Linked DNA regions of Homo sapiens. The protein of the gene in region 1 purifies or fractionates together with the protein of each later gene. This does not show direct contact. Each region holds a gene or a part of one and is shown in the gene's direction. Other genes may lie near its edges.

Region 1 (3,651 bases):
GAGCCATGCCTTTCCTCTCCTGTCCTCCATCCAGCTCCTGGATCCTGGAGAAGAGACCTATAGTGGTGAACCATGGTCCCTCCTGTGTGTTGGTTGCCAGTGAGAGTTCACCCAACTGCATTGGGGAGCCCAGAGCTCCTCACATCTGGAAGGGACATGCTGGAAAGAGGACATGGGAATGATTGGTTTCAAATAAGGTGGCAATGATGTGGGCACAAGAGTGGTGAGATGGAGAAATTTCCCAGGAAGCTTCACAGGAAATGGAAGCCTGCAGCTGTATCTTTAAGCCCTGGCGGTGACTGCGTTGCTAAAATCCAGCATGAAGCCCCTCTGAACCAAACAGGAGGAGTGGGTAGGGAAAAGAAGGGTGTTAAGACAGTCAGCAGTGCAGGGTCTTTGTCCTGCTCAGGTCCTGGCCTGAAGCGTTTCTTATCTTTCATGAGTTCCTTACATTTAAGCCGGTTCCAAGTAGCTGGATGAGAAGTCATGAAGCAAACAGGCAGAGCAGCTGTGGCACAAATCTTTTCTCTTCTTTTCTTTTCTTTTCCTTTTTATTTATTTATTTTTGAGACAGAGTCTCACTTTTTCACCCAGGCTGGAGGCTAGAGTGCAGTGGCACGATTTCGGCTCACTGCAACCTCCACCTCCTGGGTTCGAGAGATTCTCCTGCCTCAGCCTCCCGAGTAGCTGGGATTACAGGCATGTGCCACTACAACCAGCTAATTTTTGTATTTTTAGTAGAGACGGGGTTTCACCATGTTGGCCAGGCTGGTCTTGAACTCCTGACCTCAGGTGATCCACCCACCTCGGCCTCCCAAAGTGCTGGGATTACAGGTATGAGCCACCACACCCGGCCTGGCACAAATCTTTTATCTGGCTATTTCTTGATAAAACTTCAGCGCCAGAAGTATGGGGCAAGGGGGTAAGAGGTGTTGTAAGCCCCAGGGCATGGGCACATAGGCCTTGCCCTAGCTGCTGCCTTCTTTGGTGTGCTAGTTCTCAAAAGAAGGGAGCCCCAGGTGCTAAAAATGTCCCCCAGTGCAGCTCTGCTGTTGGTCCAGCCAGTGACAGGTGTTGGAACAGCACACTGCTGGAGGCGGTCTTGGAGTGGAGAGGGTTGGGCTGCTGCCTTGTGACTCCCTACCATCTTTAGTTCTCTCTGTCGCCTGTTGGGAGGGGTGAGGAGAGGTGGCAAGGAGCAAGGCACCTTCTGTCCCCCGTGGCAACTGATGGGATTTAATCGCCTTTTGGAACACAATTGTTAAGCTAGGACAGAGGGAGTGCAGGCAGAAGGAGCAAGTATCAATGGTTTTAAACGGCGTCTGTCTCTCTGCGTCTCTCCTGACGTGAGGCAGTGAAACGCGTTATCGAGGAGGCCCGGAAAGTGGCTAAGTGCGTTTGACACACGCCAACTCCCTGCCTCCACACTGGATAATTGCATTGTCAACTGTTCAGCGAGGTGGCAGGTGACACTGCAGGCCGATTGATTGTCCCGCATCGCAGCTCCCCAGACTGTCAGCTCCCCAATCGATGGCGTTTACACAAGACACCGTAACTGCATCTGTAACTAATTCCAGTGTAAAACTCGCCGGAAGCTGCTGCCCCTGCCCTCCGTGTTGGAGAGCACAGGCCCCTGGAGGGCCCCGAGACGTTTCCTTTCTCCCTGGGCTCTGGTTTTGTTGGGAGCAGCAGGTGAGGAAATCGATGCCTCCTTTTTTGTGGTTTCAGGTTCCAGGACGATACTGCCCCCAGTAAACGGGCATCTCCAGTTTCTCAATCGATCATCTGATCAATTGATTAAATTAACACTGATTTTTTTTTTCTCCCTTCTCAATAACCCAGGAAGAAATGAGTTTATGGGAGAAGGGTCGTTTTTATAAAACGTAGACCTGTGTTTCATTTCTGCACTTAACTCTCTCCCTCTTTGTTGCTCAGTTTTCACTGTGAGGAGAAGGATATTTTTTTTTGCACTACCCACCCCGCCAGGAATGGACAACTCTGGCACCACCCTGCTGGGTATCATTGACCATCAGGCTTAGGTTGCCTATGGGTGGGGGCTCAGGCCTTTATGCCACTTTAAGCTGGGGCAGAACTGTAGCAAGAGGCCCTCCCTGGTGACTGAAGGGTACTCTGGGCCATCTTGGAGGTCCTGGGGGCTGAGTTCCTTCCCTAGATAGCAGTAGTAGGAGTGGCAGCTTGCCTGTTATCGCTGGAGCTACATGGAAGAGGAGCCAGAGACTTGGAAAGGAGCTGTCTGTGCCATCTTGCCTCTGAGTACTGGCTTGGGATATTCCAGCAGCTGAGAACATCAAACGACTGTGGAGCCTTCCTCTCCAAGCGGGAGGGGGGGCAAGCTGGCGGGGGCGCTGTCTGCATAAAACGGCTTTATGGCCGTTTCTTTTTATTATGATTCTGCCAGAAGTCAGCAAGTGACATTTCATTAAGAAAATAAAGTTTAATGTGCTGGGAAAGAGGTTGGAGCAGGCTGGGGCAGCACAAGAGTGAAATTGGCAGCAGCAGCCTGTTCTGAACACCTGTGGGGGTAGGGAGAGGTTCCCAACATCTGTCTCAGCTGGAGGATGGGGTCAGGGTCAGAGTGAATGGCTCAGACCAGAGGCAGAGGCCTTTTCTTTGGCAAACAAAGTGTGTCGTGCTGTCCATCCTGCCTCACTGGCCAGCGGAACAGAAAGCTGCTGCCCGGCTGGGAGCTGGGATCTGATAAGGAAAGTTGTATCCTGAGAGATTTCTCTAGGCCACCAGCTAACTAGGACCTAATAGAGCAGTGTCGCCAGTGTTTAGCCAGTACTGCTGGGGTGTGCTGTGTGGCACCAGCCATCAGCCTGGCCAGCTCTGCTGGGTGATGCTGAGATCACAACAGTGAGTCAAACTTGGGACCCTTGCAGCTTCCACTCTGGTGAGGGACAGTGACAATAGGTGGTAATAAATATGATTTTGGAGTTACACAGGATTCTGGGTGGACACCAGGGAAGGGACACCTGTGTATAAGAACGTGGGAAGCCCCATCTGCCACGCAGAGCACCATGAGGATAGGGATCAGATCTTGAAGCTCTCTATTCTCAACATGGAGCCAAACAGAGGATGAGCCCAATAAAGGTTGAAAGAATGGCATTGAGGTGAGAGTTCTTTCCTTTAGCAGGGATTTAGAGAGCAGCTGCTCTGTGTGGGCACTGTGAGTTAATGGTAGGAGGCATGGTTGGGCTGAGTCAGACTTGCCAAAGGAGCAGGCATGTATATTGTAGACCAGGAGGGAGAAGGTTCTAGGCAGAGAGCAGGAGGTGCGGAGGCATGGGGGCATGAGAAAGCACAGGATTTGGGAGACCACAGTAGCTCTGTTTAATGGAGTATGAGTCCTGGGCCAGGCATGGTGGGCAGTAAGACTACAGAGAAAAGGACTTCAGGCTACAGGGCTGCTTTCTGCGTTGAGAAGCTGGGGCTTTTCCTGGCAGCTTTGGGGTACCCTGTTTTCTCTGCTTTGCCATGGAGCCATATTGGGCTCACATGTGGTGCCAGGGTTCTCTGCTTTCCACTTATAAGGCAGGGCTAGGCAGGGCCAGGCCGAGCAGAAGATGTGAGGCCAGCTGCTGAGCTGCGTGTACTTGGGGAAGGGGGGTTGGCAGGACTTGGGTGCCG
Region 2 (3,651 bases), on another chromosome or scaffold:
ATCTTTTTAAGTTCTTTATTTAATTTATACTTTTGGAAGTAAAGGCTTTGTAAGGGAGCCAGACTTGACTTTTACCAAAACCACATCTTAACATTTTTTTGGCTAAGTACAGAAAAATTATATGTATATTTACAGAACTTACATTTGTGGAATATGTCTTTTATTCTTTTATCAGCCAAAACTATCCTGAGGTCTGTGTTTTGTATTTGAGGAATTTTGGGTTTTAATTTCTTAAAATCTCTTGAATTCTAGTGAGTTAGAGATTCCATAGGGTTGTACTGTTTTCCAGTCTAGGAAATGATTTAAAATAGCTGCCTGGTGCTAATGTTGGAATGTTCCTAGAAAGTAAATATGTTTCCTTGCATCTTAAGTCTAGAGCATGTTTGGAAAGGATTCAAGAATTAGAGGACTTGCTTGCTAAAGAAAAAGACAACTCTCGTCGCATGCTGACAGACAAAGAGAGAGAGATGGCGGAAATAAGGGATCAAATGCAGCAACAGCTGAATGACTATGAACAGCTTCTTGATGTAAAGTTAGCCCTGGACATGGAAATCAGTGCTTACAGGAAACTCTTAGAAGGCGAAGAAGAGAGGTAAGGAACTTAAGGGTCACCCTACCTTATGGTCCACTTTTTGCCTCTCACCCTTTTTATTGAAATAAAAATAAATAGCATTTTAAAAAGAACTTTATTTTCTTGGTCATTTCTTTGAACACCTAGGTATAGAAGTAGTAATAGATCATATTTCTACCTCATCGCAGAAAATGTTGCTCAAGTACTCTTAGTTTATTTATTATTATTACTTTAAATGCTGAACTGCATCAGGATGGATTAGTTCCTTTGAGATTTTAAGTGTTTTGGTGATTTAATATATTGTAAAATGCCAAACTGGCTGAAAGAGACTTTACATATTATTTATTTATTTATTTATTTATTTATTTATTTATTTATTTATTTTTGAGACAGAGTCTCAGCCTGTTGCCCAGGCTAGAGTGCAGTGGTGTGATTCTCGGCTCACTGCAACCTTCACCTCCTGGTTTCAAGCGATTTGCCTACCTCAGCCTCCTGAGTAACTGGGATTACAGGCGTGTGTCACCACACCCGGCTAATTTTGTTTTTAGTAGAGAAGAGGTTTCACCATGTTGGCCAGGCTGGTCTCAAACTCCTGACTGCAAGTGACCCACCCGCCTCAGCCTCCCAAAGTGCTAGGATTACAGGTGTGAGCCACCACGCCCGGCTGGCTTTATATATATTTTAAATCTGGTCAATGTATAAATATTTTTGACACCTGTTCTCAGAAAAGAGTTCCAAAAGGGCCAGGTGCATTGCCTCATGCCTGTAATCCCGGCACTTTGGGAGGCCAAGGCAGGCGGATCACATGAGGTCAGGAGTTCAAGACCAGCCTGGTCAACATGGTGAAACTCCGTCTCTAATGAAAATACAAAAATTAGCTGGGCATGGTGGCAGGCACCTGTAATCCCAGCTACTTGGGAGGCTGAGACAGAATTGCTTGAACCTGGGAGGTGGAGTTTGCAGTGAGCCAAGATTGTGCCATTGCACTCCAGCCTGGGTGACAAGAGTGAAACTCTGTCTCACAAAAAAAAGAAAAAGAAAAAAAAAGTTCCAAAAGGAAAGTGGCTGATTTAGGATAAAAAGCCAGATAATTTTAATATTATATCCGTTGTGATCATAAGAAAGTACAGGTACGAAAAGAGAAAAAAGTACACCAACTATAACAGTGGCTGTGGTGGGTGGTGGTAGATCAGATGACTTTCTACCCATTTACCAGACTTCTTGCATTATGGTTATATTACTTCCATCCCTAGAGAAAACATTCAGATTGTTATTTTTTAAAAAAGAAAATTGACGATGGGCACCTTATGAAGAAGTTTACATTAGTTAAGGTAAACTTTGGCTTTGGCTAACAGATTGTAAGTAATATTTTGCTTTAGAAATGCATGGGTGGGATATTCTTCTTCTTATTATTATTATTTTGAGACAGGTTTTCACTCTGTCACCCAGGCTAGAGTGCAGTGGTGTGATCTCAGCTCACTGCAGCCTCTGCCTCCCGGGTTCAAGCCATTCTCCTGCCTCAGCCTCCTGAGTAGCTAGTATTACAGGCGCCCACCACCACGCCTGGCTAATTTTTGTATTTTTAGTAGAGACGGGGTTTCACCATGTTGGTCAGGCTGATCTTGAACTCCTGACCTCAAGCAATCCACCTGCCTTGGCCTCCCAAAGTGCTGTTGGGTTACAGACATGAGCCTCTGTGCCCAGCCCTTGTTTTTTTGTTTTTTTTTTTTTTAAGGCGAGAAGGGCATATGTGTTTTAAAAATGAATTGTTTTATTTTTCCCATATAGGTTGAAGCTGTCTCCAAGCCCTTCTTCCCGTGTGACAGTATCCCGAGCATCCTCAAGTCGTAGTGTACGTACAACTAGAGGAAAGCGGAAGAGGGTTGATGTGGAAGAATCAGAGGCGAGTAGTAGTGTTAGCATCTCTCATTCCGCCTCAGCCACTGGAAATGTTTGCATCGAAGAAATTGATGTTGATGGGAAATTTATCCGCTTGAAGAACACTTCTGAACAGGTAATAAAATAGACCCTTTTTTTTCTAGCAAGGCTTTGTGGATTGCTAGATTCTCTTGCAATTGTCATAGCTCCTTAGTTTTTGTTTGGATTCATTACGTCTTCATGGAATAAGGGTTTATGTCCTTTTTACTTAAATTCATAAAATAAAATAAAAATTAAAATAGGAGGAGGAAGAGTTAGGTACCCTTAGTAGTTTAAAGATTTGCTTCATTAACCCTTCTTTAGAGGGCCAGGGCTTTTTTGAAAAGCATGTTCCTTTTATCACAGTGGTTCTGAGGATGAGTTATTATTATTCTCTGCCCTAGCCAAATTTGTGAAGAAGTTGGAGCAATTGGATGAAAATGGTGGATATTCTTTCGGTCATTAACTTAATAAAAAGCTTACTGAAAGAAGGAGATAAGAGCCTGGACTCAGATATTAAGGGAATATTTTTCCCTGCAAATAAATGAATGAACAAATGCTAATACTTTACATGAAAAATAGCATGAAGCCTTATTTTGAAATATGTTTAAAAGTAAACATGAAGTATTCATAGCAGAGATTTCTGAAATTTAGGGCTGGGGCTTTCGGGAGCTCTGTAGTGTGGGCCTTCCCTAGCTCTGCATCAAGGAGCTGGAGGCCATGATGGGTTGTGAGATGATACTAGAGGAAGGCATGGTCTGGGAGCGTGCAGGCGGCAGTGGGATGGATGTCACATCTTGAAACATATGTTCAGGGCCTGCTAAAAGTAGTTTTGAAAATTAGTCTTTTCTCACCACAGTTATTAAAACTATCTTGCATGTGGATGAATATGTAATTTGGATGAGTGAAGGAGCACTAATGAGCACCAACAGTTTTAATGCTAAAGAGAATAGGCTCTAAGGTCTCTTTGTAGCCTTTTTTTTTTTTTTGAGTCTTGCTCTGTTGCCCAGGTCGGAGTGCAGTGGCATGATCTTGGCTCCTCCACCTCTTGGGTTCAAGAGATTCTCCTGCCTCAGCCTCCTGAGTAGCTGGGATTACAGGTGCACGCAAGCACGCCTGCTGATTTTTGTATTTTTACACAGGGCTTCACCATGTTGGCCAGG
Region 3 (3,651 bases), on another chromosome or scaffold:
GGGTTGCCTAATAGAGGAAAAAAAATCACTTAAAAAAAGACAGATCCCACAGTGAATTTATATTTGGTTTACAATACACTTGGGCTATAAGGTGTTTTAAAATTATTGTTCTTTGCTTTAAGTTAATACCATATTAGTATTTTAAATTTATAGAGTACCTTTGATTTCAAGATGCTGTATAAACTTTAGTTACTTGATAATAACTTTATTGTGGAATTGCCCCTTTGCTGAAAGGTATAAACATTTCTTACATGGTGATGCACACACTCACACACACACACTCACACACTCATACACACTCTCTCTGAAGAAGAGGAAATATTTAAGCCATGAGATCTCTGCCCACAATTGATATTAAACCTTTCCACATATTATTCTTAAAACCACAATCAGTGAACTGTTTGGTATTTGTCAATGCTAAGAAGGTGGGGCTAATTTAATAATTTGATCCCAAATTTTAGATTCCTCAGGCAGTTGGGGGTTAGAATCTGATTTCATCCATCAAGCTACTTCTGTTCTTTATGACACATTAACATATGATCATTGAAATGGGCTGTATGGTAACACTATCAACTTCAACTACTGTTTCTATAACATTGATTACAAAATGTATAATGTCTATATCATTATACTTATATCTGATACAGGCTTTTCTTTCAATGGTTTGGATAGAAAAATATTCTTTACAGTAAAAACTTTGGGATAATTTTTTATACCATTATTGTTTCTGAAAACCAAAGGCTGGAAAAAGCAGTTTAGTGTAATTTCTAATATTTTAAATTCTTAGGTATGGAGAAGCAGAATAAGATTACTCCTCCAGAACATTTGTTTCAGACCTTTTTATACATTTAATGTTTTTGTATGCTGCTTCTCATGTTATTAATTTCAAAGCCCTTGGCAATAAGGAGGTTAACCTTGTCTATAATGTAAGGAAGTTTAACTTTAAAAATTTCCCTTTAGATATGCTAGCGTCTTAATCTTGTTTCACTACATATTTTATCGATTCAAGGCTTTAAAAATTGTAGCTTAATTCTATTTCACAGGTTTTTAAGTATGCCTATACATCATAATGACTTTATTTATTTATTTTTTGAGTTGGAGTTTCACTCTTGACTGGAGTTGAAGGGCTTGATCTCGGCCCACTGCAACCTCCACCTCCCGGGTTCAAGTGATTCTCCTGCCTCAGCCTCCCGAGTAGGTGGGATTACAGGCGCCCACCACCACGCCTGGCTGGTTTTTTTTGTATTTTTAGTAGAGACGGGTTTTGCCACGTTGGCCAGGCTGGTCTCAAACTCTGGACCTCAGGTGATCCGCCCGCCTTAGCCTTCCAGTGTGCTGGGATTACAGGCATGAGCCACGGCACCCGGCCCATAATGACTTTATATACTAGAGGTGTTAGTGATTTGAATGTCCCCAATTTGTTTTATTTTCTTGGTTTCTGAGGAGGAAGCCAGTGTAGTTGAGCTCCTTCCTTTTCTTTTAAATTCTGTCTTCTAGTCTGACCCTCTTCAGGCAGGCAGTAGAACATGCCAAGGTCCTTTTTGTAGTTTGGTATTCGTAATAAAGTCTGTGTATTTTAGTCATCACTTTTACTTTTTTCTTGTTGGTTGAGCTATTACTATCACAACATACTAACATCTCATTTAACATAACTCAGTTTTAAAGATAAATGAAGGGTCATGCTTAGGCATACAAGATTTTTATTTTAGCCTTTTTTTTTTTTGAGGCAGAATCTCATTCTGTTGCCCACACTGGAGTGCAGTGGCAACAGCGTGCAGTGAGCAATCCCGGCTTACTGCAGCCTTGACCTCCCGGCTCAGGTGATTTTCCCACCTTGGCTTCCCAACTGGCTGGGACTACAGGTCCATGCCACTGTGACTGGCTGATTTTTTTACCTTTTTTTTTTTTTTCCAGTACAGATGGGGTTTCTCCAGGTTGCCCAGGCTGGTCTTGAACTTCTGTGCTCAGGAGATCCTCCTGCCTCAGCCTTCCAAAGTGCTGGGATTACAGGTGTGAGCCACCATGCCTGGCCTATTTGAGCCTTTTTTGGTGAGAGTCTTAAAGACGTAATATGTCCTCCTCTTTTCAAATAGACCATACTTAGTAGAACTTAATGTTTTATTCATGACTCAGTATAATTATGAATGCCCTCGCCCCTAGCAATACTTGCCCATCTTTTAAGGCTCAACTCAAAGATTACTGTTATCCCTAGAACTTTCCCTGACCTGAGTTGAACTGTCCTCTATGACTCTAAGAAGCTCTTCTAGTACCAGACCTAACCCACTGGTAGGCGTTTATTGTTCCTATGCTTTAAGTGCCATGAAGCCAGCATCCTTGTGTGAGTATGGATTAAGACCTTTTTGGCATTTTATTTAATGAATGCTGGAGAGCTATAAATACTTCCGAATAGTTCTGCATGTGTTCTTTATGGCTAATGCATTGGGTATGAGTGGCAAGAGGTGAGGCTCTAGACAGGGACCAACCTAGTTTGGACCTTACTGTAGTTTGCCAAGATGTTCATTTTTTTTAAGGTGGGGGGAACCATTGCAGGATTTTAAGCTTTAATATATTTGCTGTTTAGACACAATCTGGGAGCAGTATGGAGGATGGACTGGAATGGGAACCATGAAGACTGGTTTTAGGATAACTGGTTAAGCAGATTCAACAGCAACCATCGTTCAGATTTTTTTGTTTGAATGTTTATTTCCAAATTTTTTATTACAAATAATTGCTGTAAACATCTTGGTGTAGGTAACTTTGATTTTTTTTTTAAGGATTCTTTTTTTTTAGGATGCTTCCATAAAAATAGTGTTACTGAGTTCAAGTGTGTGGATATTTTTAAGGTTTCATGAGTAATTTTTCCTTTAGGCTGCTTCTTACAAGAGTTGGACCTATTTAGAGCAGCAGTAAATAAAGATGTCCCTTTTTACTATTCTGTTATAAGTATAAGCTAATTGCATTTTACATTTTTTGCTAATTTCATGGCATGTGCCATTTAAACATTCGTGAAGCAGAATATTTTCCTGTCTGTTTACTAATGATATTTATTTTCATTGACTTGTTTGGCCTTGTCCTAGTTATGTTAGAGCCTTAGTGTTTTTCTTATTGATCTACCTGAGACTTACAAATATATTAACCTGTTGTCATATTTGCTACAAACATTTCCATGATGAATTATTTGTCTTTTAATATTGTTCATTGTTTGGACATGTAGAAATGTGTTATCTTAGGAGTCAAAATCTGTCCAACTTTTGTTTTGTTTTTCCTATTCTATACTTGGAAGAACTTATTCTCCAAGAAGTTTGATAAATAAGTACATTATATTTAATGTTTTTAAAAAATGGTTTAATAAACTATTTCCCCTGCAATTGCTATTTAGCCATCTTGTCATTATTTATTAACCAATTCTTCCTTTCCACAGTGATGTAGTATCTTTTCAGTTATATTAGTTATAGAGTCAGATATAGCTCTTGTTCAGTGCCATACTGTTTTTTTTATTGTAGCTTTATAATTTAGTTTAGTATTCTCACTAGGCCAGTTTTTTAAAGAGACGGAGTCTCACTCTGTCACTCAGGCTAGAGTACAGTGGCGTGATCTTGGCTCACTGGAGCCTCTGACCCCTGGGTTCAAGTGATTCTCCTGCCTCAACCT

The links.
Region 2: the proteins of RNF220 (region 1) and LMNB1 purify together in Homo sapiens (affinity purification with western blotting, with the first as the bait; one study listed by BioGRID). This does not show direct contact.
Region 3: the proteins of RNF220 (region 1) and SMURF2 purify together in Homo sapiens (affinity purification with western blotting; one study listed by BioGRID). This does not show direct contact.

The regions. Positions count from the first base shown.
Region 1 is NC_000001.11:44,639,234-44,642,884, forward strand, and holds part of RNF220 (E3 ubiquitin-protein ligase RNF220), read left to right. Parts: intron 1-3,651. UniProt on the Homo sapiens protein: E3 ubiquitin-protein ligase that promotes the ubiquitination and proteasomal degradation of SIN3B. Independently of its E3 ligase activity, acts as a CTNNB1 stabilizer through USP7-mediated deubiquitination of CTNNB1 promoting Wnt signaling.
Region 2 is NC_000005.10:126,818,551-126,822,201, forward strand, and holds part of LMNB1 (lamin-B1), read left to right. Parts: exon of another isoform or gene 1-371; coding exon 372-592; intron 593-2,359; coding exon 2,360-2,585; intron 2,586-3,651. UniProt on the Homo sapiens protein: Lamins are intermediate filament proteins that assemble into a filamentous meshwork, and which constitute the major components of the nuclear lamina, a fibrous layer on the nucleoplasmic side of the inner nuclear membrane.
Region 3 is NC_000017.11:64,655,791-64,659,441, reverse strand, and holds part of SMURF2 (E3 ubiquitin-protein ligase SMURF2), read left to right. Parts: intron 1-3,651. UniProt on the Homo sapiens protein: E3 ubiquitin-protein ligase which accepts ubiquitin from an E2 ubiquitin-conjugating enzyme in the form of a thioester and then directly transfers the ubiquitin to targeted substrates.